Homo sapiens: one gene and its partners. The protein of the gene in region 7 purifies or fractionates together with the protein of the main gene of each other region. This does not show direct contact. Each region holds a gene or a part of one and is shown on either strand. Other genes may lie near its edges.

Region 1 (4,114 bases), on a different chromosome or scaffold from region 7:
CCTAGCAGTTTTTGTTTTAGCTGATGAAATGTTATTGCCATGTTCTCTCTCAGCTTTTTGTTTTAACTAAATCCAGATGGTCAAAGTCTAAGTCTAACATTTTTCTTGGATATTTGGGGATTATAGTTAGCTGCTTTTCTAGGATAAAGATGTCAGCTTCATTAAGGGCATGAGTGTTTTCTGTCTGCTTTGAGCTGTAGATCTGTATGTCTTGCTGTCTTGTTGACATCCTTTCTTGAATATCTTAAAGGTATCTCAAATCCAGTATGTCTAAAATGAAACTGATTTCCCCTTCCCTCCCTACAAAACTGCACAACGTTGGTTCTTTCTTTGTTCCTTTTTTCAGTGAATGACACAATTATCTTTTCATTGTAAAATCCAGAAAACTAGAAGTGATCCTTAATTCCCTCTCCCTGATAGATCCAATGATTGAACAAGTTTTTAAAGTCTTACTTTCTACATGACTCTTGAATTTTTCTATTTCTTCCTGTTTCCACTACTGCCACTTCATCTTGCCTGAAACTTTTACAATAGCCTCCATTCTTATCTGTCCTCTCTAATTCATTACCCATCTTGAAGGCACAGTGATTTATTTTGAAACACACATTGGATTATCACTCTCCTTCTTCCTCCCCCAGTGCTTTTATGGCTTTCCATTGCTTCTAGGATCAAAATAAAACTGCTTAACAGCCTTTAGCTCTCCAGACTCATCTTGTACCATGTTCTGCATAACTCTCCAGTTCAACCATGCTGGCCTTCTTTAGTCCTTTGTATGCACCTTGCTCCCTGCCATTTTTGCAAGGCTTTTGTACATGCTTTTCTCTCTGTCTGGACCATTCTTTCTTTACTTTCATTTCATTTCACTTGTTAGTTCCTAGTCATCCTTCACACCTCAGCTGAAGTTTTGCATCCTTAGAGAATATGCTCACTTCCCACATTAAGGTAATAGCATCATACATTTCCCGCAGTTTGCAATTTACATTTATTCATGTGACTGTAAGATTTTCTTTCTGTTCAGTGGCCTATAAACTTCATGAAGGTAAGGTCCATATCTTGTTTTCTTTTTTGGCTCATTTTTGAATCCCTAGAACCTAGCTCAGTACCTGACACCTAAATTTGACTCATTAAATTTCCAAGTTAATGGTATTAAGGATTTCAGTTCATCGAGTTTTGTAATACAAGAATTTGAATATGAATTTTTATAAAAATAGTGTTAAAATGGTAGTACAGTTTGAACATTCCTAATCCAAAAACTTGAAATCCAAAATGCTGCAAAATTCAAAACTTTTTTGAGCCCAACATGATGCTACAAGTACATAATTCTACACCCAACTTTATGTGATGAATCAAAGTCAGAATGCAGGTGTACAACAGTTTCTCCAAGAGAAAAAAGACCTGCCTAGCCCCCTTCAGCTGCCATATATCTTTTCCTCACACAGCCAGATGCACCTACGCAAGCATGCCCGCAAAGGGCAATACAATGCCATGTGTATGTGTAAGAAATGATTGGTTATACGTAGCATATAAATTCAGAGACGGGAATGATAGTGATGTCAAACAACCACAGACTGTCCACATGAGTGGCTGAGATAGTGACACCTTTGCTTTTGGATGGTACAGTGTATACAAACTTTGTTTCATGCAAAAAATTATTAAAAGTATTATATAAAATTACCTTCAAGCTATGTGTATAAGGTGTATATGAAATGTAAATGAATTTTGTGTTTACACTTGGGTCCCTTCCTGAAGATACCTCATTATGCATATGGAAATATTCCAAATGCCAAAAAAATCTGAAATCCAAAACATTTCTAGTCTCAAACATTTTGGAAAAGGGATAATCAACCTGTAATTAAATTTTCAGTTTGACTATTTCTTTCAAGTGTATGGAAATAAATTATTAGGCCGGGCACAGTGGCTCACGCCTGTAATCCCAGCACTTTGGGTGGCCGAGGTGGGTGGATCACTTGAGGTTGGGAGTTCAAGACCAGCCTGGCCAACATGGTGAAACCCTGTCTCTACTAAAAAATATACATATACAGATTAGCTGGGCGTGGTGACCTGCACCTGTAATTCCAGCTACTTGGGAGGTTGAGGTGGAAGATCGTTTGAACCTGGGAGGCAGAGGTTGCAGTGAGCCGAGATCGTGCCTCTGCACTCCAGCCTGGGCGACAGCAAGACTCCGTCTCAAAACAAAAAATGTGTTATTAGTAGCTATATAAAATATAGCAATATAGCACAGTATTCTTACACTATTTTGTAATAGACCCTTTTATTTTTGGATGGTTTTAGTTTTACAGAATTACTGTGAAGATAGAATAGAGCTTCCCATACCCACTTTCCCCTATTATAAGATAGGCTGTGCACAGTGGCTCATGCCAGTAATCCTAGCACTTTGGGAGGTCAAGGCAGGTGGATTGCTTCAGCTCAGGAGTTCAAGACCAGCCTGGGCAACATGGTGAAACCCCATCTCTACCAAAAATACAAAAAATTAGCTGGGCATGGTGGTGCCCATCTGTGATCTCAGCTACTTGGGAGGCTGAGGTGGGAGGATTACTTGAGCCCAGGAGGCGGAGGTTGCAGTGAGCAGAGATTATGCCACGGTACTCCATCCTGGATGACAGAGCGAGACTCCATCTCAAAAAAACAAAAACAAAAACATACTACATTAGCATAGTACATTTGTCACAATTAACCAATATTGGCACGTAATTATTAAAGTCCATATTTTATTCAGATTACCTCACTTTTCCCCAATGTCTTTTTTTTTTTTTTTTTTTTCTGTTCAAGGATCCCATCTAGGATAGCATATTACCTTTAGTGGTCATGTATCCTTTCATTTTGACAGTTTCTCAGATTTCCTTGTTTTTGATGACAAGTTGATAGTTTTGAAGATTACTGCCTGGTCAGGTATTTTGTAGACTGTCCCTCAGTTGGGACTTGTCTGCTGTTTTTCTCATTAGACTGGGTGATATGTTTCTAGGAGGAAGATCACAGAAGTAAAGTGCCATTCCCATCACATCATATCAAGAATACAGACTTTTTTTTTTTTTTTTTTTTTTTTTTTTGAGGTAGAGTCTCACTCTGTTGCCCAGGCTGGAGTGCAGTAACGCAATCTCGGCTCACTGCAACCTCCACCTCCTGGGTTCAAGCGATTTTCCTGTCTCAGCCTCCCAAGTAGCTGGGTCTACAGGTACATGCCACCATGCCCGGCTAATTTTTGTATTTTTAGTAGAGAGAGGTTTCACCATGTTGGCCAGGCTGGTCTTGAACTCCTGACCTCAGGTGATCCACACACCTCAGCCTCCCAAAGTGTTGGGATTACAGGCGTGAGCCACTGTACCTGGCCAAGAATACAAACTATTAATATGACAGTACCATTGATATTAACCTTGACTACTTGGCTTGAGATAATGTTCATCAGTTTTGTCCACTGTAAAGTTACTCTGTTTTCCCCCTCCTTTTGTATATTGTACTTTTTAGAAGAAAGTCTCTCTGTGAAGCACACAATTGGGAATTGGGGAATTATGCTTTACCTCTTTAAGGGTGAAGTGTCTACATAAATTTTTGAAAAATCTTCTATAAGAGTTTTTTGTCTATTCTCCCCTTTCAGTCGTTTATTTATATCAGTCTGACTCATGGATATTTATTTTATACTTAAGGGTAAATCCAGTAGTACTTTATTACTTTGTTGCTCAAATTGTTTCAGCTGTGGCCACTGGGAGCTCTTTTAGTTGGTTCCTGTATTCCTTTGACATACTCCTGTCATTGTGAGACTTTTGTTCTTGTTTTGTTTGTTTGTTTGTTTTTGAGCACTTTTAACTTTCTGGTATTACAAAATGCTCTAGGCTCACCTTGTGTATTACCTACCACAGGCCTAGAATCAGCCTTTTCTCCAAGGAGCACTGATTCCTTCTATTGGAGAATAGTATTAGAAACCAATATCTGGGCACTATGTTTGCTCATTGCTGTTGGAATGTCATTGCTTCTAGGCCCTCCCAGTGGACAGAGTAAGGAAATATATGTGTGTACACTAACTCATGTATATACACATATCTATAAATATTTCTATATGTAACTATATATATGTTAAGCTATATTTTCAGTTTATTTC
Region 2 (4,114 bases), on a different chromosome or scaffold from region 7:
CTCCTTTGTTCCACTGGTGCCTGGGTAGGAATGCAAGGTTTTGTCACCTGCTCCCCACCCTGGAGCATGTGGATTGGGTGCTGTCTTCAAATATTGGATGTAGCTAGAGGTTTGCAGTAAGTACTTTATTTGTTGCCTTTTTTGTTGAGCCTGGGCAAGATAGAAGGTGGTGGGTAGAGCTGCTGGTGAGGACGCCACCCTGGGTGCAGCCGAATGTCTCTGGGAATGAAAGGGGGAGGGAGTGTGATTCTGCCATTAAGGGTCATTTGGGCAGGCTGTGGAAAAGGTTTATTTCTCCTAGGCCTTGAAGGGTGAGTCAGTGTTTGCTGTACAGAATGGGATGTCAGGGGCAGCACAGACACAGAAGCACAGCGGTGGGAGGGCGGTGGGAGGGCTGTGGGCGGTACCAGGCTTGCATGGTGTGGTGTCCTTAGACCTCAGCAGGGAGCAGGCAGGAGCTGAGGCTGACTTCAGGTGGGTGCCTGAGAGCGCTGGCCTGAGAAGCTTGGTCTTGTAAGCAGTGGGCTTCCTAGGAGGGTTGCAGGTGGCACTGCTGAAATAGAGGAAATGCCTGCCCTAGGGCAGTGGCTGCAGAGGCCGGGTCCCGTGGGTGGGTTGGGAGATTTAGGGTGGGTGACTAGATAGAGCAGGTGCCAGTTTGAGGAGGAAGATGAGTTCTGTCCCTGCAAGACGAGGCTTCAGTGATGCCTCAGGGACAGCCACATGTTGATGCCTGGGAGGCAGCGGTCTCCTTGGTCCAAAAGGCTGGAGAGAGGACAGGATTGGCCGTGTGAGCCACGGGGCAGGAGTGTATGGGAGGGGGTGGGGTCAGAAACAGGAGAGGCTGGGCCTAGGCACTCCCCTGCAGCCCCCCTGCAGCCCAGGACCACAGCTCAGGAGGGATGGAAGAGGATGGAGCTGGAGAGGGAGGGGCAAGGGCACTGTGTGGGGTCAGAGAAGAGGAGAGGAAGAGGGGAACTGCTGCTGGGAAGCTAGGTGTGTTAGGGCCGGAGGAGACCCTCGGGCTTGGCTTGAAGGGTGGCTTTGGTGACCCTGGGGAGAGTGGTTTGGGACATGGGTTCAGGTGCAAGCCATACCACAGTGGGCCAGGGAACAGTGGCTGGGAGGGGCGGCTGGGTGTGGAAGTGGCCTGCAGGTGCACGGAGGGCGAGGCGCGACCGTGAGGCTGGGACTCTCGAGGGCATGCAGATGCCTTTCCAGAAGGCACGTGTCCCCGTGTGGGGTCAGGCGGACAGCCCCGCCGACCAGCGAGGCTGCCTGATTCTGACCCGTTCTTGTCACCCGCAGAGCTGCCATCAGTCATGCTCTTAAACGGGGACTGCCCAGAGAGCCTGAAGAAGGAGGCGGCGGCGGCCGAGCCACCCAGGGAAAATGGGCTTGACGAGGCCGGCCCGGGAGATGAGACCACCGGCCAGGAAGTCATTGTCATTCAGGACACGGGCTTTTCTGTGAAGATCCTCGCCCCTGGGATCGAGCCCTTCTCCCTGCAGGTAAGATGGAGGAACGGGTGCTGGGGGCCAGGCCTGAGCCTGCTGGGGAGGGTGAGCTGGAAAGCTCAGCCTTGCTCGTGCTCCTACCGGCCCCATTTTGTGGCAGGAAACTGAGGATCCCGTGCCCTCCCTAGAGTCACTCAGCTAGCGTGGTGGACGTGGGAATCGAGCCCAGGGTCAGGTCGTTGCCCCATTGCTAGAGGACAGCAACCAGCTGGGCCTGCCAGCCCTATGTGGGGAGGGGAGTGATAGTGGCTGGGAAGTGTTGGCATCCCAGGACTCCCCAGCCTCTTGCTCTGTGCCCTCAGGCAAGTCACCTCTCTCTGGGCCGTGATTTTACCATCTGCCAGAGGGGAGGGTAGTATTGGGTTATCTCCAAGGGCAGAGCCAGCGTGGAGGTCTTGCAAGCCGGTGACTCAGTGGGGAACGAGACAGGGTCGTCGTATGTCTCGGCACCCGCAGGCTTGGGCCCCAGAGCACCCCTTCTGGAAGGGGAAAGCCATTTGCCCCAGGCACCTTAGCACTGGGCAAGGCCGGGGGCGAGCCTGCCGTCTTCTGTCCCGCTGTTCTTCATCTCCCTTCTCTGCTCGGGCATTGCTCTGGGTCTGCAGGCCGAGTCGGTGGGCCAGGCTCCAGGCTGCACACACAGGGCATGGCATGTGTGGACATGGCCTGGATTTAAAAGCCAGAAAGTGGGATAGCCGATATTCGAGTATTTGGGGCATTTATTCTGGGGACCAAGGTACTTTGGGCTGGGGACAAGGGGATATTGTCCTTGCTGTCCGCTACGTGGCCTCTCACCGGGGCGGTTGGGGCCTTCTCTCCCCGCTACGTGCTCTCTCACCGGGGTGGGCGGGGCCTTCTCCCTGCAGGTGTCCCCCCAGGAGATGGTGCAGGAGATTCACCAGGTGCTCATGGACCGGGAGGACACGTGTCACCGCACCTGCTTCTCACTGCACCTGGATGGCAACGTGCTGGACCACTTCTCGGAGCTGCGCAGCGTCGAGGGGCTGCAGGAGGGCTCTGTGCTGCGTGTGGTGGAAGGTTGGTCTGGAAGTTGGACAGCCTGCCCGGGGGAGGGCCCACGGAGGCAGAGGCAGGCAGCACCATCCATGCCAGGGTCCCTGTGTCACGGATGAGCTCATGGAGGCAGGATTGGAGCACAGATCTGCTTCTCAGGCCAGCACACCTATATCTGCCAACTTCACGGCCCATGGGTTAAAGAACAGAGCCGTGGGCTGGGCATGGTGGCTCACGCCTGTAATCCCAACACTTTGGGAGGCCAAGGCGTGTGGATCACCTGAGGTCAGGAGTTGGAGACTTGCCTGGCCAACATGGTGAAACCCCATCTCTACTAAAAATACAAAAAGTTAGCTGCGCGTGGTGGCAGGTGCCTGTAATCCCAGCTACTCGGGAGGCTGAGGCAGGAGAATCACTTGAACCTGGGAGGCAGAGGTTGCAGTGTGCCCGGATCGTGCCACTGCACTCCAGCATGGGCAACAAGAACGAAACTCCGTCTCAAAAAAAAAAACAAAACAAAAGAACAGAGCCGTGATTCTAAAAAAAAAAAATCAGGCAGTACCATCCCAGGGCGTGAAGTCAGCGCAGTTCAGTTCTGTAGAGATCCATGAGAAGTCCCAAACGTTTCCTAGCCCTAGAGTGGGGAGGTCGGGCACGGGGAGGTGCCATCCGGTTGGTCTGTGGCCTCGAGTTTTCTGGGTAGAAGCTGCTTGGGTTCCACCCCAGGGCCTGTCCGCCTGTTGAGAGCAGTGACGGAAAAGGTCTGTAGCTCAACAGCGCCCACAGTTGATCACGGAACCTCTCCCCTCCACCAAAAGAACTGCCATTAAAATCCCATGAAACCACATAGGGGCAGTGTTGACATTGGGGGCCTTGGAAAGTCCTCAGGCCACCCCTACATGAGGCTGCCTCGGGAGAGCAGGGCAAGGCTGTGGTGTGGAAGTCCCACAGCTCCAAAAGCCCTGCCCAGCCGACACACTGGCGCACAAAAGCAGGCAGCCTTGTGGACGCCTGAGGCCTGTGTGTGCTTCAGAGGCATTTGGCAGAAAGTTCTTTATAAACAAAGATCCCTGCTCACCAGTAGGCAGAGTGTGTGTGTGTGTGTGTTTGTGGTGTCAAAACCAGAACTCCAGCTTATGTGTTCACAGTGGAATTTGAAAACGGAAACCTAAAGTTGAAAATTAAAACCACTGTGTTAGCACCTCCAAAACCTGTTTTGTGCTGGGCAGGTTGTTCAGGGTGCAGGGCCCTGGTAACGCCATACCCTCCCTGCCTTCCTGACAGAGCCGTACACGGTGCGTGAGGCCCGCATCCACGTGCGCCATGTCCGAGACCTGCTCAAGAGCCTGGACCCATCCGATGCCTTCAACGGGGTTGACTGCAACTCCTTGTCCTTCCTGAGTGTCTTCACCGACGGCGACCTGGGAGGTGCGGGAGGCACTGGGGCCGGGGATTGGGCCAAAGGGCGGGGAGCACGGAGGTGGGGGGCTGGAGAAGGGGCCGAGGGGCCTGGGCCTGAGGCACCCGGACCACGGCCATCAGGAGGTAGGGAGACAGCTGGCCCTGGGTGGCCCTGTGCTGAC
Region 3 (4,114 bases), on a different chromosome or scaffold from region 7:
GGGTGATGGAAACTGTGTTCCTACTCCTACACATTATAGTCTATAAAAAAACTTTAAAAATGCTCTTAGACTGGAGCCTGTGTAAGAGAACTTGCAGTGTTTGCATAACAGAGCTGTTCCGTGAAGAAGAAATAGCTGCATCTAGGCAGTTTCCTCCTCTGTGACCACAATTTACATTGATTTGTTTTATAAACAGATTTATCAGCTTATGTTGAATAAAATCATTCCTCTTAACAGGTGGTGTATTCGAAGGCTGCCAGTGTACCGAAAGTTGAGACTGTAAAGTCAGACAACAAGGATGACGACATCGATATTGATGCCATTTAAAGGGATGGATGCAACCTAGCTTAACAGTATAATGCTGCAAATTTTCCTCCATTATCAGCCAGAAGTGCAACATGTATGTGCAAAAGCTAAAATGGCTTAACATCATGCTACACTTTACACTAAAAATCTATTACTGTGAGTGGTCTGTTATTAAGCCCAATGAGACATCTAGGGAGTCCATACACATCAGTGAGCAGATGTAGTTTGCTTATTTATAGCATGTTTCTTTTTGAAAAACTAGTGGTGGACACATTTGGATCACATTTATACAGTTATAAAAATAAAGGTTTGATTTTGGTCGTTCTTCAGATGTTTGGCTCTGAATGACTTAAGCTGAAGTAACTGGCTCCTTACTTTAAATGTTCTGCCATCATTTCACCTGATGAGCATTCTTGGAGCCTGCCAGATATTGTTAGGTCCTGGGGCTGCAAAGAGGTCCTCAACAGGATGTAAAGCAAACTTAATTGTAATTAATTTATTCAGCCCATTAAGAAAGTACTAAAGTTTTATCTCTGTAGTTCCTCAAATTGGCATCTGGTAATGTACATTGTGAGGTAGACTGATAATGAAATGACAGTGTAACATCTTAACCAAGAAGTAAATATGACCTCAGTGTCCTATAAATAATGTAAGAGCAGGATTTGAAACTTGGAGAGCTGTTTTCTCATTTCATGTACACTTGCCCCAAATTGTCTTTGAAGTCGTGTGCATTGCACGTTGGATGAGCCAGGGAAATTATTACATTAACAAGCATTTTGTGTGTACGTAGTAGTTACTTTGTACTGAGAGAACTTGCTTTGGGGTGCAATTAATAAACTGATTTTATTTGGGAGAAACAAGGAAGGGTGCACTTAACTAGCAACCTAAGCATGATTTTTCAGCTTTTGCCCTTAGGGTTTAAATTACAATTCCAAAATGTTAGACATACTGTATTTTTTCGTTCAGTGTGGCTTTAATTTTCCCCTCTTGCAGTTTGTTCTGTAATGCCTTTTACATTTGGACACATAGTTTATGCTTTTTAGATTTTGGTTGCTTTCTTGCCAAAATAAGTGTTAACTGTGTTTCAAACTTGATTTTCTTTCCTTTTTCTTTTTTTTTTCTTCCAGAATGTCTTATTTAAAAAGAAAGCTAAAAGCATACTTCTAAGTCAGAGCCTCTATTTTGGTGTAAGACTTGGGATATTTTTTACTTCACATTGAATATAGCCAGGCACCCAAGAAGTCTGATGGCCACCTGAGTGCAGGTGACAAGGACCTGACAGAGCCCATGCAGGGCTTTAGATTTGGACACACAAGAGTTGATAACTTCCTCATGAACTCCTTGCCTGATCTAAACTCATATTATGGGTTCTGACTGTTTGAGTAATCATCTTCAAGGTTAAACCTCTTGGCAGTTACCCTTTTCACAAAGTGCACAGTGGGAATCGAGAATCGATAGGGTTAATTTTGGAGCAGTGGCTTATACCATTCACCTCTGTTTTTTTGTGATTATTTCACAGATAATGAGACCTTAATAACAAATAGGCGTAAAAAAATTTTCACATTGAAATGATAGAAACATTTGATGTAATAAAACTTGGTTGGCTTGATATTTTAAGGAATTGAAACCTAGCAATCTTATTGGAGAGACAAGAATTGGTCTCCAGCTGCCTTTGATCAAGATTCGGGTGCAAGTGGAGCAGGAGCCATATACCTGGAGGGAATGTGCTTTGTCACACCAAAGAGGATTTTTTTTTCTTCAAACTTGTATGTTGCCTAGGTTTCAAATTCTTTGCCGCAAGGCTGATCTGCTTTCATTAACTGGAATTCTGTAGGAGATACTGGTGACCTAAGCTAAGTTGCACTCAGCATACTCAGTGTCAAGCTAATGAGGTTCTATTATAAAGGTTCTACTTTTAATCTGAGGGAAAACATGTTCAGGGCTTCTAGAACACTAAAAAATTTGGCTTAAACCAGTGTTCAGTCTGGTGCCAAACTTCGAATGGAATACAAATTCACATAATCTGAACTTTGTTCACAGGTTATCCTAATAGAGTAATTCTTCACTTTGCTCTATTGAACTGTCTTAAGGATTTGTTTAAACAGCTAAGTTACTTGATTAAAATAATGATAAAATTGTATTTTGTCTTTGCTTTAATATTAAAGTTAACAAGTTTTCATTTTATAATGAGATCAAAGCATTGGAATCTGCCCTGTTTTGTAGCCGTTGCTTTGGATTTGTGTTGGATGTATCCTGCAGTTACACTTGCCAGCCCCACTCACAAAAGTTGTTCATTTCATTGGGTCACTGGCTTTATTTGCTAGTCTTGTCTGTGAACTGAGCATCTGCCTCAGTTTTATTACTTGAAATCTTGGCAGGTGCTTAATAGGGAACATACATACAGCTATGTAACTGTGAATAATTGTATATATCTCTAGTTAAGAATGAGGGAATGGGGAGGTTTGCTTTCTAAACAAGTGCATTCTGAAATTGACTTAAAAATTTTTAGTGTGGGTCCTAAAGTTTAGAGATGGGCAAGGAGGTCTCTAATCCACCGCTTCCCGCTTGAGAAGGGAGGGGTATCAAAATTGAGCCCCAAGCTGTTTGTTCCAGTGTACCAAGCACTGACTTTATGCCTTTGGCCTGGAGATGGCAGAAGTGAAAGCTGGCCATCTGCAAAAAGCAGATAAGTGAGTTTGAACCTTTTGCATTTTGTTAGCTCAGTCAGTCCTCATCGTGGTCCTGAGGCATAGGTACTGTTGTACCAAGGTCACTTATCTAACAAAATAACCCTTCATGTATTTTAAATTTATTTGACAAGTCTGCAGACAATCCTTATCTAACCAGCTATTTTCTTAATTGCTACAGCTTGACCTACCAGTATTCCGGAGTAACCAGCAAATGCAAAGTTGACCTTGTTCCTGCATCATCTTTTTGATGGTTCAAATTTCAGCCTCCCTGACTACTACAAAGCCAGAGCAGTCTTAGTACCAGAAACAGTGTTGCACTTTCGTTGCATGTGCTGTGTGACCCCAAGGGGACAGGGAGTCACTTTGGTCATCTCTGTCCCCAGTACAGATCTTGATTCATAGTGACATTCCATAAGTGGGGTGACAGCAAATGACTTGCAGGTAGTCTCATTGTAGGTTTGTGCACCAGAGTGACCCTGTGAGCCTTTGTTAATAGGTTGGGAGCTCAGGGTGTTTATGTCCACCTGTCTGGTCTAGCCAAACAGTTTTTTTCTGGGAATCAAATTTCTGTGGTTTTTATGGCCAGAAATTTTAAGGACTTGTGTGTGCTGGGATATGAGAATAGAAGCTACAGAGTTCTTTTCTTGGGACCTAGACTGGGAGGTGCAATGTCAGGACCTCCAGGTGAATGGTAGGATCTGAGTTGACCCTGCAGTTCGGTTATGCAGTCAATTATTTCTTTTTAAGAGGAGGAGGATTCACTTGGGTGTTGGGATCAAATTTGGATTCTGTCCCAGGCCTTACTGTAAAACTAGGGGATTGCCTTTCCATATCTGCTGGGGGTGGAGACCCTTATGTGCAGCACTCAATCCCACTGGAAGCCTAATGCTGCAGTCAGAAGCAATGCCTGGCTGGGGCAGTAGGGGAAATTCCACCCAATTTTGCTATGAGCCTAAAACCTCTTTAAAAACGGTCAGTTAACTAAAAAATAAAAATCAAGTCTTTAGGAGAGTAGAAAACACAATTAACTAAAAAGCAGGGACATCTGAAAGAGACGTATTAAGTTAACATTTTTAAAAATCCAAATGAAAGTAAATGGAATAAATGTATCAGGTAAA
Region 4 (4,717 bases), on a different chromosome or scaffold from region 7:
AGACTTCAGAAAGGCAGGATGTATGTGGGCTTCAGGAGCCTGTGGGAGTTGGGGTCATAACATTGCAGGCCTCCACCTGTGTCCTGGTATTTCTTCCATTATTGCTCAGAGCAAGACCAGATGCATCTGCTCCTTTGACTTCTTAGCAGGAAACAAGGCTGTAGACAGTGCCAGAGCTTTTTTTTTTTTTTTTAGACAGAGTCTTGCTCTATTGCCCAGATTGGAGTGCAGTGGCACGATCTCAGCTCACTGCAACCTCCGTCTCCTGGGTTCAAGCAATTCTGCCTCAGCCTTTCGAGTAGCTGGGATTACAGGCACGCGCCACCACACCTGGTTGATTTTTGTATTGTTAGTAGAGACGGGGTTTCACCATGTTGGCCAGGCTGGTCTCAAATTCCTGACCTCAGGTGATCCTCCAGTCTTGGCCTCCCGAAGTGCTGGGATTGCAGGCATGAGCCACTGCGCCTGTGAGTTTTACGTCACAGCTTTGCTACCCAGAGAGACTACTAGATCGAAAATCCCTAGGAAGGACTCTGGTTGATGTAGCTTAACCAGTCAGGGTCCTTCAGAAGAGGTATTCCTGGCAAGGGGGTAGCCTCCCATTTGAGGCTGTCAAAATAATGTGCACACTTCAGTAGGTTGTTAGAAGTGGCCTCCTGGTCAGTGAATCATCAGTGGGATCAGATGAAAGTTATTCCTACCAGTTATCTAAGAAATAGGAAACTTGAAGTTTCTGCTAAGAACTAAGTCCACACGGAATGCTAGAGATCATGCTGCAAAATGAAGACTCATTTGTTTGTGAGTGGTAGTCCATGAAATCTATCCTTTCTTTGCCAGCAGGCGTTCAGCAATCTGGATTTTATATTCTATCAAGACAAAGAGTAGAGATGACTCAAACATTTCTAACATTTATAGAGCACTTAGTGACATGCCCCTGGTACTTCCCTAAACATTTTACATGTGTCATCTCCTTTAATCCTCACAAGAACGCTATGGTCTAAGTATTATTATTCCAATTTAAAAGAGAAGGTTGGGGACAGTGACACACACCTGGACTTACAGCACTTTGGGAGGCCGAGGCGGGAAGATTGCTTGAGGCCAGAAGTTGGATACCAGCCTGGGCAACATAAGGAGACCCCCTTCTTTACCGCTCCCCCACTCCCGCCAAAAATTTAGCCGGGCAATGTGGCACGTGCCTGTAGTCCCAGCTACTCAGGAGGCTGAGGCAGGAGGATCGCTTGAGCCCACGAGTTCGAGATCGCAGTAAGCTATGATCATTCCACTGTACTGCAGCCTGGGTAACAGAGACCCTGTCGCTAAATAAATAAATAGACCTGAGTTGGAATATCGGCTCTGGAGACCTTAGTGTAACCATGCGCAAGTGTTTACTCACCTATTAAATGAGACTAAAGGTATTTTCTTCTCATGACTATATATAGCATACCACTAAGCCCTCTAGACATCATATTCCCCATCCATCGCCCCGTCCAGTGGACCAGGGATGAAGCGGGGATGCGCTAGGCATCCCGGTTTGTCACCAGGGGGCGTGCGAGGCCCTCAGCTTGGCGGGCGGTGAGGCGTGGGGTGACGGGGGGATGGCGGGGGCCGGCATGCGCGCGCATGCGCCGTGGTAAAAGGCCGGTACCTCGGGCAAGATGGCTATCAAGAGTATCGCTTCCCGCCTCCGGGGTTCCCGTCGTTTTCTGAGCGGCTTCGTGGCTGGGGCTGTAGTGGGCGCTGCGGGAGCTGGGCTCGCGGCCCTGCAGTTCTTCCGGAGTCAGGGCGCTGAGGGAGCGTTGACAGGGAAGCAGCCGGATGGTAAGTCTGTGGGCCCGTCCTCCCTTCGCTGGCCCAGATTTCGGGCTCCGACTCCTACCTGGAGTGTGAATGGCAGTCCTTGACGGACAGCCTTCACCGTTTGCTGGGCCCCTAGCCTGGCCCTTGGTTTCTGACCTTTATTCTCCCGGCTCGGCCTCCCTTCCCCACCTCGCGTCTCGCCAGCTTCCCTCATGTCCTTCCTTCCCCCGGGCATCTTCGTTTTCTGCACAGAACCACCCCCGCCGCCCGACTTTCTTCCCCCCAGTTACTCATCGCGATATCTATGTTTTAATGTCTGTGTTCTCTACTAAGATTGTTAGCTCCATAAGACTTGAGACTATGTCTGTTTTGGTCTCCATCATCTAACCAGCACAGTACCTGGTACATAATTGGCATTCAGTAAGTATGAATGAAGGAATAAATTAATACATAATTTTAGTAGATGAGTTAACTGCCCTTCTTTCGTCATTGTTCAGTTGAAGAATACCTGCTATCCCTCCAAAGTGTATAAAAACTCATGTTGCAATGGGTACCTTATATTTGACAAAAAAAAAAAAAAAATTAACACGAGCTCATTTCTTGTACTTTGCGGATGTGCTAATTTAACTTGCTCCTTTGGATACTTGGCATCTAGCAAGAGAACTACCCCCTTGGGGGGTTGAGGATTTGAGAAGGCATCGGGGAGGATTATCTCGAAACTGACTCACTGCTGAATGTGTGCTTGGTTTCTCCCACTAGGAAAAACAGTACCAGTTTTACTGTCATCTTGCAACAGCACACATATCAGTGCTTCAGAGATGATTTGGAAATTTGATGTGAAAGACTAATAAGATCAAGTCTTTATTCAAAAGTTAATGCAGTAGCTGCATTTTATTCACTGATTATAGGCAAATCAGTACTTTGCCTACTGTCTGTTTTCTTCATCTCATAAGTAATTGCAAAAATGAGATTTTCTGGTTGATTAGACTTCTGAGCCAGTCCTTTGTAAATCACACCGCTCTCCTTTTCCTTATAATCTTTCATTATTAAGAGCCACTAATTGTGTGTGTGTGTTTTTTTTGTCTCTGCCCCCCCTTTTTTTTTTTTTTTCATTTTTAGGATCTGCAGAAAAGGCTGTCTTGGAACAATTTGGATTCCCTTTAACTGGAACAGAGGCAAGGTGTTACACTAATCACGCTTTGTCTTATGATCAGGCAAAGCGGGTGCCTAGATGGGTTCTTGAACATATTTCCAAAAGCAAGATAATGGGTAGGTGGTTGGATAAAAAAACTGAAGTAACAGTATTTATGAAAGATGTCTCCAAATTTAAAACAGGGATGATTATTAATATTCTCAACCTTTTTCATATCATAGCACATGTAGAAAATTATATTTATATAACTTACTGGTTAAATCAACCCTGCCTGGCAGCCAGAAAGCCAGACCCTTTCCAGCTGTCTCAGGGCTGAAAATACCCATATCTTGACACACTAGTTGGGAGGCTCTGTCATAAATATTACAGCAATGAGCACCATTCAGTTTTACCTTAACAAATATTTATGTGCCTGCTATGTGTCTGGCACTGTGGTAACCCTTGGGGACCTATGTGTGACCAGAGTAGAGGATCTCTACCCCAGTGACACTTTGAGTTGGGAGAGTGGGTTGACCCATCAAACAAATAATTTTAGATGTATAATTACAATAATTTTTCCAAAGGAGGTGATTGCAAGTTAGTGTAGTATAATTAAGGAACAGTAAAAAGTTTGATGAGAGGCTGGGCGTGGTGGCTCACACCTGTAATCCCAGTACTTTGGGAGGCTGAGGCGTTTGAGCTCAGGAGTTTGAGATGAGCCTGGCCAACATGGCAAAACCGCGTTTCTACAAAAAATACAAAAATTAGCTGGGCGTGGTGGTGCACCTCTGTGGTTCCAGCTACTTGGGGGACTGAGATGGGAGGATCTCTTGAGCCCAGGAGGTGGGGGTTGCAGTGAGCCAAGATCGCAGCACCACACTCCAGCTTAGGCAACAGAGGGAGAATGTGTCTCAAAAAAAAAAAAAAGTGTGATGAGAGATTATAACACAAGAACCTGATTTTGATTAGTAAGGCTTCTCTGGAAAAGTGGACTGAAGAGTGAACGGAAATTACTTAGGCAAGGGGTTGAATGTGCCATGGGATATGGAGAAGAGCATTCTAGGAAGAAAGGAACATTTGCATCTTCGGAGGCCCCCAATGTGGACAGGAGTTTTGTTCTTTTAGGGAACTAAAAGAGTGCCAGTAGATGAATGAGGGGGAAGGTGATGTGAAATGATGCTGGAGAAGTAAGCAGGTGTGTCAGTTTATTCATGTGTCCTTATGTCTTGATAGGGTCCTGTAGAATTGCCAGATCTTGATAATTAATGTCAAATTGGTTTCTAGGTAGATTCTTCAAGTTTACACTCCTAGCATCATTGTTTCTTCTCTCTCTCAACCTTCACCTATGGTGAGCATTACTGAGCTTTACCAATTTAATGCTCATTTTACTTGTGTTTATTGATTATCAATGAGGGTTAACATGCTGTGAATTAGTCTTTTTTGGTAAGTTATTCTTTACCTATTTCAGTTGGGGTATTCTCTTTTGAATTTATTTGTAAAAGTTCTTTTATTTATTAAGGATATTACCTTTTGTCACAGTTGTTTTGTTCCCTTTTGTTATTTGCTTTTTAATTTGCTGTGTGTTCCACATATTCTCCTTTGCTTTAAAATGTGTGCTATGGCTATGCATATTAAAATGCTGATATTAAAGTTAGTGTGTGCCATTCTAGAGTGCACAGCAACCAGCAGAATAACAGGAGGCTTGGAATGTACTTGGTGTTAGACAGAAACTGATGTAAGTGAAAACTTTATCAAGCATATAAGAAAACCTGGGCATTTTATATTGTA
Region 5 (4,114 bases), on a different chromosome or scaffold from region 7:
CCGTTTTTTGTTTTTTGTTTTTTTGAGACAGGGTCTTGCTCTGTCACCAGGGCTGGAGTACAGTGGTGCAGTCTCAGCTCACTGCAGCCTGCAACCTCCACCCTCCACCTCCTGGGCTCAAGAGATCCTCACATGTCAGCCTCCCAGGTAGCTGGGACTTCAGGTATGTACCACCATGTCCAGCTAATGTTTGTATCTTTTGTAGAGAAAGGGTTTCGGTATTTTGCCCAGGCTGGTCTCAAACTCCTAGGCTCAAGAAATCACCCACCTCAACCTCCCGAAGTGCTGAGATTGCAGGCATGAGCCACTGCACCTGACCTTGCCTGCTTTTTTTCTTTTTTCTTTTTTTTTTTTTGACACTGAGTCTCGCTCTATCACCCAGGCTGGAGTACAGTGGCGCGATCTCGGCTCACTGCAACCTCTGCCTCGTGGGTTCAAGCGATTCTCCTGCCTCAGCCTCCCAAGGAGCTGGGACTACAGGCGCCCACCACCATGCCTGGCTAATTTTTGTATTTTTAGTAGAGTCAGGGTTTTACCATGTTGGCCAGGCTGGTCTCAAATTCCTGACCTCGAATGATCCACCCACCTCGGCCTCCCAAAGTTCTGGGATTGCAGGCATGAGCCACCGCGCCTGGCCTTGCCTGCTTCTTGAGCTGCTTCTTGCCACCTTCAAGGCAAGACTTGGTTCTTGCCACTCTTACCCCCTACCCTGCTACCAAAACCTACATCTTGTTTTTTTTAGGCATTTCAAGGTAGATTACACTTTTAAATCAAGTGGTTAAGGTAGGATCTCCTGAAGTAGATATCTGGGCAAAGACTTGAAGGAGAGAAGGGAGTTAGCATGTTATCTGGGGACAGTTGTCCCAAGCAGAGCACAGCCAAGGCAGAAGCCCTAAGACAAGAGCATGACTGGCATGTTCTCTGAGCAGTACTAGGGCCCTGTGGTGGAACGAAGTAAGGGAGAGAGAGTAGTAGGAAATGAGAGCTGAGGTGTAATGGGGAGCAGATCATGCAGGACCTGTATGCCATTATGAGGGTTTCAACTTGTACTCTGAATGAAACGAGGAATTATTGGAAGGTCTTTGGGCAGAGAAGTAATGTGAGCTGACTCACATTTTAAGAATCAGTAGGCCAACTGCAGTGACTCACACCTATAATCCCAGCACTTTGGGAGGCTGAGGCAAGAGGATCACTTGAGCCCAGGAGGTTGAGGCTGCAGTGAGCCAAGATTGTGCCACTGCACTCCAGCCTGGTCAACAGAGTGAGACCTAATCTCAAAAAAAAAAAAAAAAAAAAAAAAAAGAAGAAGATGTGGAGTGCTTCAAATCCCACCAGAAAATCTTATTTCTATAGTGCCCTGTTCTTGTGAAGCTAGCATATGTAACTCTGCTACATAATCCAAGGTCTCCTATAAATGAATTTTTAATACTCATTTTTTTAAACTTTGTTAACTAAAAGGTTGAGATTTAAGCTCCTAACTAGTTTGTTTCTTGCGCAGCCCACAGAACTTAATTGCCCAATCTCAGTCTGGTACTGGTAAAACAGCTGCCTTCGTGCTGGCCATGCTTAGCCAAGTAGAACCTGCAAACAAATACCCCCAGGTAAGGATTTATGAATTTAGGTTTTCTACTAATGCATAGATAGAAGGGGATTTCCATTTGATGGATTAAAAGACAAGCTATGGGCTGGGTGCAGTGGCTCATGCCTGTAATCCCAGCACTTTGGGAGGCCGAGGTGGGCGGATCACCTGAGGTCAGGAGTTCTAGACCAGCCTGGCCAACATGGTGAAACCCTGTCTCTACTAAAAATAAAAAATTAGCTGGGCCTGGTGGCATGTGCCTGTAATCCCAGCTACTTGGGAAACTGAGGCAAGAGAATCATTTGAACCCGGGAGGCGGAGGTTGCAGTGAGCTGAGATCGCACCATTGCACTCCAGCCTGGGCAAAAAGAACGAAACTCTGTCTCAAAAAAATAAAATAAAAGCCAAGCTATGCATTACTTTTTACACAAACTGAAACTCCTTAAATTGAGCACAAATAATACGGGATATCTTCCAATGGCAATAAAAATCCTGTTTCCTTTTTCCATGGTGTGCCAGTTCTGGGATGCTTCTTACAGGCTTGGCTCCTTTACTTGCAGGAAAACCTGTTTCATCAGCAACTGCCATCCATTAGAAAGTTCTGAGAGCTTTCTGAGTAAACGAAAAGAAAGCTAATGCCAATTGGAACTTTAGATCCTTGCTCATGGGTGGGTTTTTGTATTGCAGTGGCCAGTATCTGTTTTCAAGTGTCTTTACCCAGCCAGAGTTCTGACCCCTAAGAATTCTAGCTTATGACTCTGTAGCTTAAAGAATCAAATGGTGTACATTTTAATGTACATATTCTTTCCTTCAGCTTCAGCTGGAGGAGTGGCTAAGTACTAATGGTAATTCCCCTTTGCAAAAGAGCTATTGTCTTGAATTTGCACTCTGCATTCTTTTCCTGCCAGTGTCTATGTCTCTCCCCAACGTATGAGCTCGCCCTCCAAACAGGAAAAGTGATTGAACAAATGGGCAAATTTTACCCTGAACTGAAGCTAGCTTATGCTGTTCGAGGCAATAAATGTGAGTATGTGAATTTGGTCCTAAATCATCAACCTAATTCTTTTTATTTTGAAATATTTCAAAACCCACCCAATAGTTGAAATAATACAATAAACACATGTATGTTCTCCAGCTAGATTCAAAAACTTAACATTTTGCCATATTTGCTTTACATAAATGTATACATTTTTGTCAAACCATTTGAAAGTAAACTGCAGACATGCACCTCATGAGGACATTCTTTGCCATACCTATGGATACCCTTTTATCACAACCAGGAAAATTAACAGATTTCCTAGAATAACTAATACCAGTCCATTTTTATTCCTCCCCAGCTGTTCCCAAAGTCTTCCTTTATAGCTGTTTGGTTTTTCGACCAAGATCAAGTTAGCGTTTATACGTTGCGTTTGGTTGTTGTACTTGTTTCTTTCAATCTAGAATTGTACCCCTACCTTTTTCTCTCCCTATTATATTTAACATTTTGCACAGACCAGACTAGTTGCTTTTCAAATATTCTACATTCTGGCCGGGCGCGGTGGCTCACGCCTGTAATCCCAGCCCTTTGGGAGGCCGAGGCGGGCAGCAGATCACGAGATCAGGAGATTGAGACCATCCTAGCTATCATGGTGAAACCCCGTATCTAATAAAAATACAAAAAAATTAGCCAGGCGTGGTGGCGGGCACCTGTAGTCCCAGCTACTTGCGAGGCTGAGGCAGGAGAATGGTGTGAACCTGGGAGGCAGAGCTAGCAGTGAGCTGAAATAGCGCCACTGCACTCGAGCCTGGGCGACAGAGCGAGACTCCGTCTCAAAACAAGCAAACAAACAAAAAACAAACAAACAAAAATTCTACATTCTAGATTTGTTTATTTTTATTTATTTATTTTAGAAACAGAGTCTTGCTCTGTCACTCAGGCTGGAGTACAGTGGCATGATCTTGGCTCACTGCAACCTCTGCCCTCCGGGTTCAAGTGATTCTCCTGCCTCAGACTCCCAAGTAGCTGGGATTACAGGTGCCTGCCACCATGGCTGGCTAATTTTGTATTTTTAGTACAGATGGGGTTTCACCACGTTGGCCAGGCTGGTCTCAAACTCTTGACCTCAGGTTATCCATCTGCCTCGGCCTCCCAAAGTGCTGAGATTATAGGTGTGAGCCACTGTGCCCAGACTTCTTTCTTTTTTTTTTGAGAGAGAGTCTCGCCCTGTCGCCCAGGCTGGAGAGCAGTGGCACAGTCTTGGCTCACTGCAAGCTCTGCCTCTGGGGTTCACACCATTCTCCTGCCTCAGCCTCCTGAGTAGCTGGGACTACAGGCGCCCACCACTACGCCCAGCTAATTTTTTGTATTTTTAGTAGAGACGGGGTTTCACTGTGTTAGCCAGGATGGTCTCTATCTGCTGACCTCGTGATCCTCCCGCCTTGGCCTCCCAAAGTGCTGGGATTACAGGCGTGAGCCACTGCGCCTGGCCGCCTTCTTTTTTTTATTTTGAGACAGTTTCGCTAGGTCACCTAGGCTGGAGTTCTGACTCCAGGCAC
Region 6 (4,084 bases), on a different chromosome or scaffold from region 7:
TTGGCTTATTTTATTTTATTTTATTTTTTTGAGATGGAGTCTTGCTCTGTTGCCCAGGCTGGAGTGCAGCGGCACAATCTCGGCTCACTGCTACCTCCGCTTCCTGGGTTCAAGCCATTCTCCTGCCTCAGCCTCCCCAGTAGCTGGGATTACAGGTGCCCGCCACCACACCCAGCTAATTTTTGTATTTTTTGTAGAGACGGGGTTTCACCATATTGGCCAGGCTGGTCTGGAACTCCTGACCTTTTTTTTTTTTTTTTTTTTTGAGACAGAGTCTTGCTCTGTCGCCCAGGCTGGAGTGCAGTGGCGCGATCTCAGCTCACTGCAAGCTCCGCCTCCCGGGTTCACACCATTCTCCTGCCTCAGCCTCCCGAGTAGCTGGGACTACAGGCGCCCACCACCATGCCCAGCTAATTTTTTGTATTTTTAGTAGAGACGAGGTTTCACCGTGTTAGCCAGGATGGTCTCGATTTCTTGACCTTGTGATCCGCCCGCCTCGGCCTCCCAAGGTAATGGGATTACAGGCGTGAGCCACCGTGCCCGGCGGAACTCCTGACCTTGTGATCTGCCTGCCTCGGCCTCCCAAAGTGTTGGGATTACAGGTGTGAGCCACCACGCCCAGCCAGTTTTATTTTATTTTTGAGTCTCACTCTGCTGCCCAGGCTAGAATACAGTGGTGTGATCTCAGCTCACTGCAACCTCCGCCTCCTGGGCTCAAGTGATTCTCCTGCCTCAGCCTCGAGTAGCTGGGATTACAGCTGCCTGCCACCACGCCCGGCTAATTTTTGTATTTTTAATAGAGACAGGGTTTCTCCATGTTGGCCAGGCTGGTCTCAAACTCCTGACCTCAGGTGATCCTTCCACCTTGGCCTCCCAAAGTGCTGGGATTACAGGTGTGAGCCACCACGCCTAGCCTTAGATTGGCATCATTTAAATATTTTATTAGCCGCTCAGCCATAGTATGAAACTTTAACTTAAAGAGAATAGTCACTTCATTTAAGGGTATTATGACAAGTTTGTTACTTTCCTAGTTATCAAATAATAATTCAGAATAAGTTGTGCAGTTCTTGTAGTATGTACCAAAGTGATTAAACTCACCTTTTTGGGGGTGATGGGGAGGTGGGATGGAAGTCTTGGTAAAAAGGCACCAGCCTGCTTAAATGGCAGATTGAACTTAATCATGAAAATGCTCACAGCAACCCTTAATGAGTCAAGTTCTGGGTTATTGACACCATTGATGACTACTTGAATTGTTTTATGAGAAAGGAAAGTGATTTTTAATTACATCTGAATCGCTTAATTTCTGATTCTCGGTAAAGTATGATGATGAAGAAAGATGATGGTTCCTATCTCTCGGGGTTGTGAAGATTAAACAAAATATGTAAAAACAGGAGTTAAAAATCAGTGATAAATATGTATTTACTGCCCAGAATGCATTTGGTCTGTCTTTATATGAACATATTTTCCAGTAAATACTAGCTGACTTTATTTGTTTTAGGATGGCTGTTCAGTGGGAGTCTTTAAGATGTTTTTGAAATTGCTCCCCAAGTCTCCCGTATTCCCCAATATAGATCCATCTCTAGTCTTAACATCATCAGCTCCGTTTTAGTTTGTCTTTCATTGTTGCTGTGATTACCACAAACTCCGTGTAGCCGTCGCGAGCCATAGGATTGTGCCCATTCAGTGAATGCTTTGTAGTGTGTTGCATGCAGAGTGTGTGCACCGGCTCAGGTCTGTGTTCCAGTTCCCAGCACACTCTTTCAAGCTAGGTGATATTGGGCAAGTTGATTGTGAAAATGGAAAATTTGAAAATGGGAAGAATATCTGCTTCATGAGGATTAGATAAGATGAGGGATGTAATTGTCTAGCAAGGAGGAAGACTTAGTAATTATTATTTGCTTGTGTGTGTGTTTGAGATGTAATGCACATATCATAAAATTCACCCACTGAAAGTGAACAATGTCGTGATTTTTAGTATATTCACAGGGTTGTGCAAACAACACTACGATCAATTGCAGCACATTTTCTTTTCTTTTCTTTTTTTTTTTGAGATGGAATCTCGCTCTGTTGCCTAGGTTGGAATGCAGTGGCACGATCTTGGCTCTCTGCAACCTCCGCCTCCTGGGTTCAAGCAATTCTCCTGCCTCAGTCTCCCAAGTAGCTGGGACTACAGGCACGTACCACCACGCCTGGCTAATTTTTGTATTTTGAGTAGAGATGGGATTTCACCATGTTGGCTAGGCCGGAACGCCTGACCTCAGGTGATCCACCCACATCAGCCTCCCAAAGTGCTGGGATTACAGGTGTGAGCCACCACACCCATCCAAACTGCAGTACGTTTTCATAACCTCCAAAGGAAAACCTCGTACCATTAGCAGTCGTATCCTCACTCCCCCCACCCACTCCCTGGCAACCTCTAATCCTCTTTTTATTTCTATGGTTTTGTTAATTATTACTAATAGCAATAGTAATAATAATGATAGCTGCTTGGTCCCCTTGCCGTTTAAATGAAACCTTTTGTGGTTTTGGACTTATTGCCAGGCAGGTTGATGTCTTAGAGAGTGTTATTATATGATTTTAGCCACAGGAAAATGTTACCTTTCAGGTAGGTTCTGGACATTAGTTCTGATATGCAAGGATTAGCAAACGAAACACAATGAACTTGGCTCCCTGGTCTGGCACAGCTGAGAGTGCCCTTGAATGGGGTGGCTGCATCACAACCCGACATGCTGGGCGTCAGTTCCAGTGGACAGGAATGGCAGGATCAGCTGGTGATTTGTGAGAGTGGTTGTCAATAATTTCTGTGATGGAAAGTGACTCTACTGTTTAAATAAATCATACAGAACAGTGATGCCACAAACATTTCTGTTAGTGCTGGTGTTTTCTTTGGTGAGGAAAGGAAGGTAGAGGATTCACAGACCTTGGCTGAGCCCCAGGTAGCCATTTTCTGAATGAACTTGGGAAGGTCACTTTACCCCTAGGCCTTAGTTTCCTCATCTATGAAATGGGAATGAGAACTTCGTATCCTCGGTCATTTCATATCCTCAGTCTTGCACGAACTGAGAGCCTTAGTATTGCAGTAGGGGGTGGCTTCTGTGGGATAAAGGACACAGCTTTGAAATCAGATAGGTTTGGTTGGGATTGGATTCCAAACTGTACTTTGAAGTTGTGGTCAAGTACCTTTAAATGGAACTTCAGGTTTCCTGATCCATGAAAATTAGCTGGACATGGTGGCACATGCCTAGAATCCCAACTACTCGCTAGGCTGAGGCACTTGAGCCCAGGAGGTTGAGCCTGCAGTGAGCCGTGATCGTGCCGCTGCACTCCAGCCTGGGCAACATAGACTGTGTCTCTAAACAAATAATAAAAAAAAAGGATTAGGACGGCTGAGTGGGTTAAGTGGACCACCCAAGGTGTCAGGCATAGAGGAAGGGATTGGTACCACTGCCTTTCCTGGATGGGATTAGCTACTCCAAAACAAGCTATTTTGCTCTGTTCAAGAACAAGAGTATTTCAGAGCTTTCCTTCCTGTAGATTAATTTAAAGCTGCTAGTATGTCCAGTTGCTGAACCTGTCTTGACAGGTGTCTCTGTTCTTAGCTCTTGAGGCTAGTGCGCCTCTAGGCAAGATGTCCCTGCCCATCGGGATATACCGCCGGGCAGTCAGCTATGATGATACCCTCGAGGACCCTGCGCCCATGACTCCTCCTCCATCGGACATGGGCAGCGTCCCTTGGAAGCCAGTGATTCCAGAGCGCAAGTATCAGCACCTCGCCAAGGTATCTGACCCTGCTGGCCATTTCTGGCATACGCAACCCCTTTGTCCTTCCTCTGCTCCAGAAGCCTTCAGTGGCTCCCTGTGCCCATGGGACTGGGCAGCAACCACTCCCTGTATGTGTTTTCTGTGCCTCAGTTATAGCTGTCTTTTTTTTTTTTTTAAGATTTTATTTATTTTGTTAAAAAAAAAATCAGTAGCTTTAGGGTTACCCGAGGTGTTGTTCGCATGGATGAATTGTATAGTGGTGAAGTCTGGGCTTTTAGTGCACCCGTCACCCGAATAGTGTACAGTGTACCCAATAGATGGT
Region 7 (3,882 bases):
AAAGTTGCAGAAATAGTAGAAAATTCCCATGTATCTTTCATCTAGCATCTCCCAATGATTACATCCTACAAAGCCATACTGTAGTTTATCAAAACCAGGAAATTGCCGGGTGTGGTGGCTCATGCCTGTAATTCCAGCACTTTGGGAGGCTGAGGCAGGCAGATTACCTGAGGTCAGGAGTTCGAGACCAGCCTGGCCAACATGGTGAAACCCTGTCTGTACTAAAAATACAAAAATTAGCCAGGCCCGCTGGTGCCCACCTGTAATCCCAGCTACTTGGGAGGCTGAGGCAGGAGAATCACTTGAGCCCAGGAGGCGGAGGTTGCAGTGAGCTGAAATCACGCCACTGCACTCCAGCCTGGGCGACAGAGTGAGACTCCGTCTCAAAAAAAGAAAACCAGGAAGTTAACATTGATAAACTACTACTAACTAATCTACGGACATTCAAATTTTGCCAGTTTTCCCGATGATGTCCTTTGTCTGGTCCAGGGTCCCATATTGCATTTTGTTGTGGTGTTTCCTTCATCTCTGTCAGCCTGTGACAGTTTCTTGGTCTTTATCTTTCATGACCTTGACACTTTGGAAGAGTCCAGGCCAGTTATTTTATAGAATATTCCCCAGTTTTAGTTTGTTTAATGTTTTTACATGATATGATTGAGGATCTGCATTTTTGCCAAGACAACCACAGAAGTGATACTGTGCTATTCTTAGTGCCTCCTAGCGGAGGGTGGTGGTAACTTTTTGTTTTGGTTTTTTTTTTTTTTTTGAGACGGAGTCCCGCTCTGTCACCCAGGATGGAGTGCAGTGGCGCAATCTCGGCTCACTGCAACCTCTGCCTCCTGGGTTCAAAGTGATTCTCCTGCCTCAGCCTCCTGAGTAGCTGGGATTGCAGGTGCCCACCACCACACCCAGCTAATTTTTGTATTTTTAGTAGAGACAGGTTTTCGCCATGTTGGCCAGGCTGGTCTTGAACTCCTGACCTCAGGTGATCCACCCACCTCGGCCTCCCAAAGTGCTGAGATTACAGGCATGAGCCACCACACCTAGACTAGGTGGTGGTAACTTTGATCACATGGCTAAGGTGGTGTGTGCCAGGTTTCTCCACTGTAAAATTAGGAATTTTCCCTTTGAAATTAACAAGAATCTTCCACTTTGAAGCTATGTGAATGTCTTATTCTTAAAATTTTGCCTACTGATTTTCATTTCCATCATCAATGATTCTTGCTTATAACAGGTATTAATGTTATGCTTGCCTAATGGTGACTTTGTTTCATTATTTTACCTGTATTTATTAATTGGTATTCTACTATAAGGAAGAGCTGTCCCTTTTCCCCATTTATTTATTTGATAATTTATATCAGTATGAATGAGTGGATATCTGTTTTATTCTACAGGCTACAATCTAATGCTAACAGTTTATTTGGTTGCTCAAATTGGCTCAGATTTGGCCAGTGAGAACTCATTGAAGTTGGCACTGTGTTGTTTCGACATTGCCCCTGTCACTTTTTAAGCATTTTCTGGCACCACAAGATGTTTCAGGCTTCCTCACATTTTCCCTATCTCAGCCCTGGCATCAGTCATTCTCTAAGAAGCTCCCAGTTCCTTTTATTCCAGAAAAAAGGAACTTAGAAACCAAGTTGTTTCTTGATGCCACTGGAAACCAAGATCTGGACAGAATATATACTCCTGGCTAGAGTATCATTGGCGGAGTGTCATTGCTTGTAGGCCTGCTCAGCAGACAGAGCTAGAAAACATATATGTATATATGTTAAAACATGCAAATACAAGCACCTGAATTTATTATTCTATCCATCTGTATGTTATTAAAAACCGTGAGCCAGGTATGGTGGCTCGTGCCTGTATCCCAGGACTTTGGGAGGCCAAAGTGGGAGGATCACTTGAGCCCAGGAGTTCAAGACCAGCCTGCGCATCATAGCAAGACCTCATCCTCCAAACGTTTAAAAAATAAAAAATTAGCCAGGCATGGTGGTGCATTCCTGTAATCCTAGCTACGTAGGAGGCTGAGGCAGGAGGATCGCTTGAGTTCAGAAGGTTGAGGCTGTAGTGAACTGTGATTGTACCACTGCACTGCAGCCTGAGTGACAGAGCAAGACTCCGTTTCATATTTTTAAAAATAAATAAAAATCATGAGTTTAGATACGGTTTTAATTCAATACCATAGGGTTTGCGACTGCCATTTTTATAACCTTACTATTCTTTTTCTGCTTTTTCTCCTGCTATCTCTGTTTCTGCTCCTTTCTATTTGATGTTTAGACTTCCCATAGAGGCTCTAGTTAAGTCAGCTAGTAACCAGCCTGTGTGCAGTATTCCTACTAGATAGAGGTCTTATGCCCGGCTGTCAGTCCGTTGGTTCAGTTAACTGTGGCCAGGAATACTAGGCATATAACTTAAAATCAGATAACTTTTATACAAGAAAAGCCAATGGCCACCTTCCTGAGAATAGGATAAGGAGACAGGGGTAGAACCTTAGATTCTAAGGAACCTAATTAAGAATCACTTCTGGCCGGGCGTGGTGGCTCATGCCTGTAATCCCAACACTCTGGAGGCCATGTAGGGGCAGATCACGAGATCAAGAGATTGAGACCATCCTGACCAACATGGTGAAACCCCATCTCTACTAAAAATACAAAAATTAGCCAGGCGTGGTGGCGGGCGCCTGTAGTCTCAGCTACTCGGGAGGCTGAGGCAGGAGAATCGCTTGAACCCGGGAGGTGGAGGTTGCAGTGAGCCGAAATTGTGCCACTGCACTCCAGCCTGGTGACAGAGCCAGCCTCCGTCTCCAACAAAAACAAACAAAAAAAGAATTACTTCTTCCAGAGATTCTCTGCCAGAACTCCTAGGTGGTGTTGGACCCATATCTTTTACTTCCATAGCATCCCAGGCTCAGCTCACTTGTCCTACTTGTTCTGTGTCTTCATCACTAGAATGTAAGTTCTAAGAGGGCAGATGCCAAGCTGTTCAGCCATTCACAGAACCTGGCACAGTGCAGGCATATGACAGATGTTCCTTTATTATTATACTTGGGTGAGTGGATGGGACCTGCAGCAAGTGCAGATCTTCTCAGTGGGCTCTGGAACAGAAAAGTATTGTTTGTTTGCTCAGCATATTTTTATTTGTCCCATGTTGCTGTGGCCAGGATTTGAGCTCTGAGACAATGCAGCAAGGTGAGACCCAGATTTCTTTTGTTTTGTTTTGTTTTTTGAGACAGAGTCTTGCTCTGTCGCCCAGGCTGGAGTGCGGTGGTGCAATCTTGGCTCACTGCAACCTCCACCTCCAGTTCAAGCAGGTCTCATGCCTCAGCCTCCTCAGTAGCTGGGACTACAGGCATATGCCACCATACCCAGCTAATTTTTTTTGTATTTTTAGTAAAGACGGGGTTTCACCATGTTTGCCAGGCTAGTCTCAAACTCCTGGTCTCAAGTGATCCACCCACCTTGGCCTCCCAGAGTGCTGAGATTACAAGCGTCAACGACTGTACCCGGCCCCAAATTCCTTATTGAGGATCCTAGAATACATGAGACCAGACTTGGAAATGAAAGTGTAACATGTTTATTGTTCAAAAAGAAAAACTCAAAGGTGTGTAGTGATTTTAAAATTTAGGGAAATTCCTCAATATAGTGAAAGAAGAAAAACAAGAAAGAAATTTAGGAAAGAAACACACTTAAACCATAAAAAATAGAAAATGGACCAATAAAGATAAAAGCTAAACTTAACAAGGTAGGAAAAAGAAAAAGAATAAATTAAAAAATTCTTTGAAAGCACCAATAAAATAGATAAAACCTCCTGAGCCTGATAAAAGGGGAAAGGAGCCAAAAAAATTAACAAAATTAGGCATGAGAAATTAGACATAACCATATATAT

The links.
Region 1: the proteins of CLPB (region 7) and ARFIP1 purify together in Homo sapiens (co-immunoprecipitation; 3 studies listed by BioGRID and IntAct, with this or other methods). This does not show direct contact.
Region 2: the proteins of CLPB (region 7) and CLUH purify together in Homo sapiens (co-immunoprecipitation; 3 studies listed by BioGRID and IntAct, with this or other methods). This does not show direct contact.
Region 3: the proteins of CLPB (region 7) and EIF5 purify together in Homo sapiens (affinity purification with mass spectrometry; 2 studies listed by BioGRID and IntAct, with this or other methods). This does not show direct contact.
Region 4: the proteins of CLPB (region 7) and EXOG purify together in Homo sapiens (affinity purification with mass spectrometry; 2 studies listed by BioGRID and IntAct, with this or other methods). This does not show direct contact.
Region 5: the proteins of CLPB (region 7) and DDX19B purify together in Homo sapiens (affinity purification with mass spectrometry; one large-scale study listed by BioGRID and IntAct). This does not show direct contact.
Region 6: the proteins of CLPB (region 7) and KIAA1191 purify together in Homo sapiens (co-immunoprecipitation; 3 studies listed by BioGRID and IntAct, with this or other methods). This does not show direct contact.

What each region holds. Positions count from the first base shown.
Region 1 is NC_000004.12:152,786,041-152,790,154, forward strand, and holds part of ARFIP1 (arfaptin-1), read left to right. Parts: intron 1-4,114. UniProt on the Homo sapiens protein: Plays a role in controlling biogenesis of secretory granules at the trans-Golgi network. Mechanistically, binds ARF-GTP at the neck of a growing secretory granule precursor and forms a protective scaffold.
Region 2 is NC_000017.11:2,701,759-2,705,872, reverse strand, and holds part of CLUH (clustered mitochondria protein homolog), read left to right. Parts: intron 1-1,308; coding exon 1,309-1,511; intron 1,512-2,383; coding exon 2,384-2,555; intron 2,556-3,815; coding exon 3,816-3,959; intron 3,960-4,114. UniProt on the Homo sapiens protein: mRNA-binding protein involved in proper cytoplasmic distribution of mitochondria.
Region 3 is NC_000014.9:103,340,726-103,344,839, forward strand, and holds part of EIF5 (eukaryotic translation initiation factor 5), read left to right. Parts: intron 1-237; coding exon 238-327; 3' UTR 328-4,114.
Region 4 is NC_000003.12:38,494,713-38,499,429, forward strand, and holds the start of EXOG (nuclease EXOG, mitochondrial isoform 1 precursor), read left to right. Parts: upstream 1-1,627; 5' UTR 1,628-1,655; coding exon 1,656-1,818; exon of another isoform or gene 1,819-2,916; coding exon 2,917-3,066; intron 3,067-4,054; exon of another isoform or gene 4,055-4,717. UniProt on the Homo sapiens protein: Endo/exonuclease with nicking activity towards supercoiled DNA, a preference for single-stranded DNA and 5'-3' exonuclease activity.
Region 5 is NC_000016.10:70,323,087-70,327,200, forward strand, and holds part of DDX19B (ATP-dependent RNA helicase DDX19B), read left to right. Parts: intron 1-1,498; coding exon 1,499-1,601; intron 1,602-2,487; coding exon 2,488-2,602; intron 2,603-4,114. UniProt on the Homo sapiens protein: ATP-dependent RNA helicase involved in mRNA export from the nucleus.
Region 6 is NC_000005.10:176,355,265-176,359,348, reverse strand, and holds part of KIAA1191 (putative monooxygenase p33MONOX), read left to right. Parts: intron 1-3,599; coding exon 3,600-3,778; intron 3,779-3,928; exon of another isoform or gene 3,929-4,084. UniProt on the Homo sapiens protein: Potential NADPH-dependent oxidoreductase. May be involved in the regulation of neuronal survival, differentiation and axonal outgrowth.
Region 7 is NC_000011.10:72,287,829-72,291,710, reverse strand, and holds part of CLPB (mitochondrial disaggregase), read left to right. Parts: 3' UTR 1-3,882. UniProt on the Homo sapiens protein: Functions as a regulatory ATPase and participates in secretion/protein trafficking process. Has ATP-dependent protein disaggregase activity and is required to maintain the solubility of key mitochondrial proteins.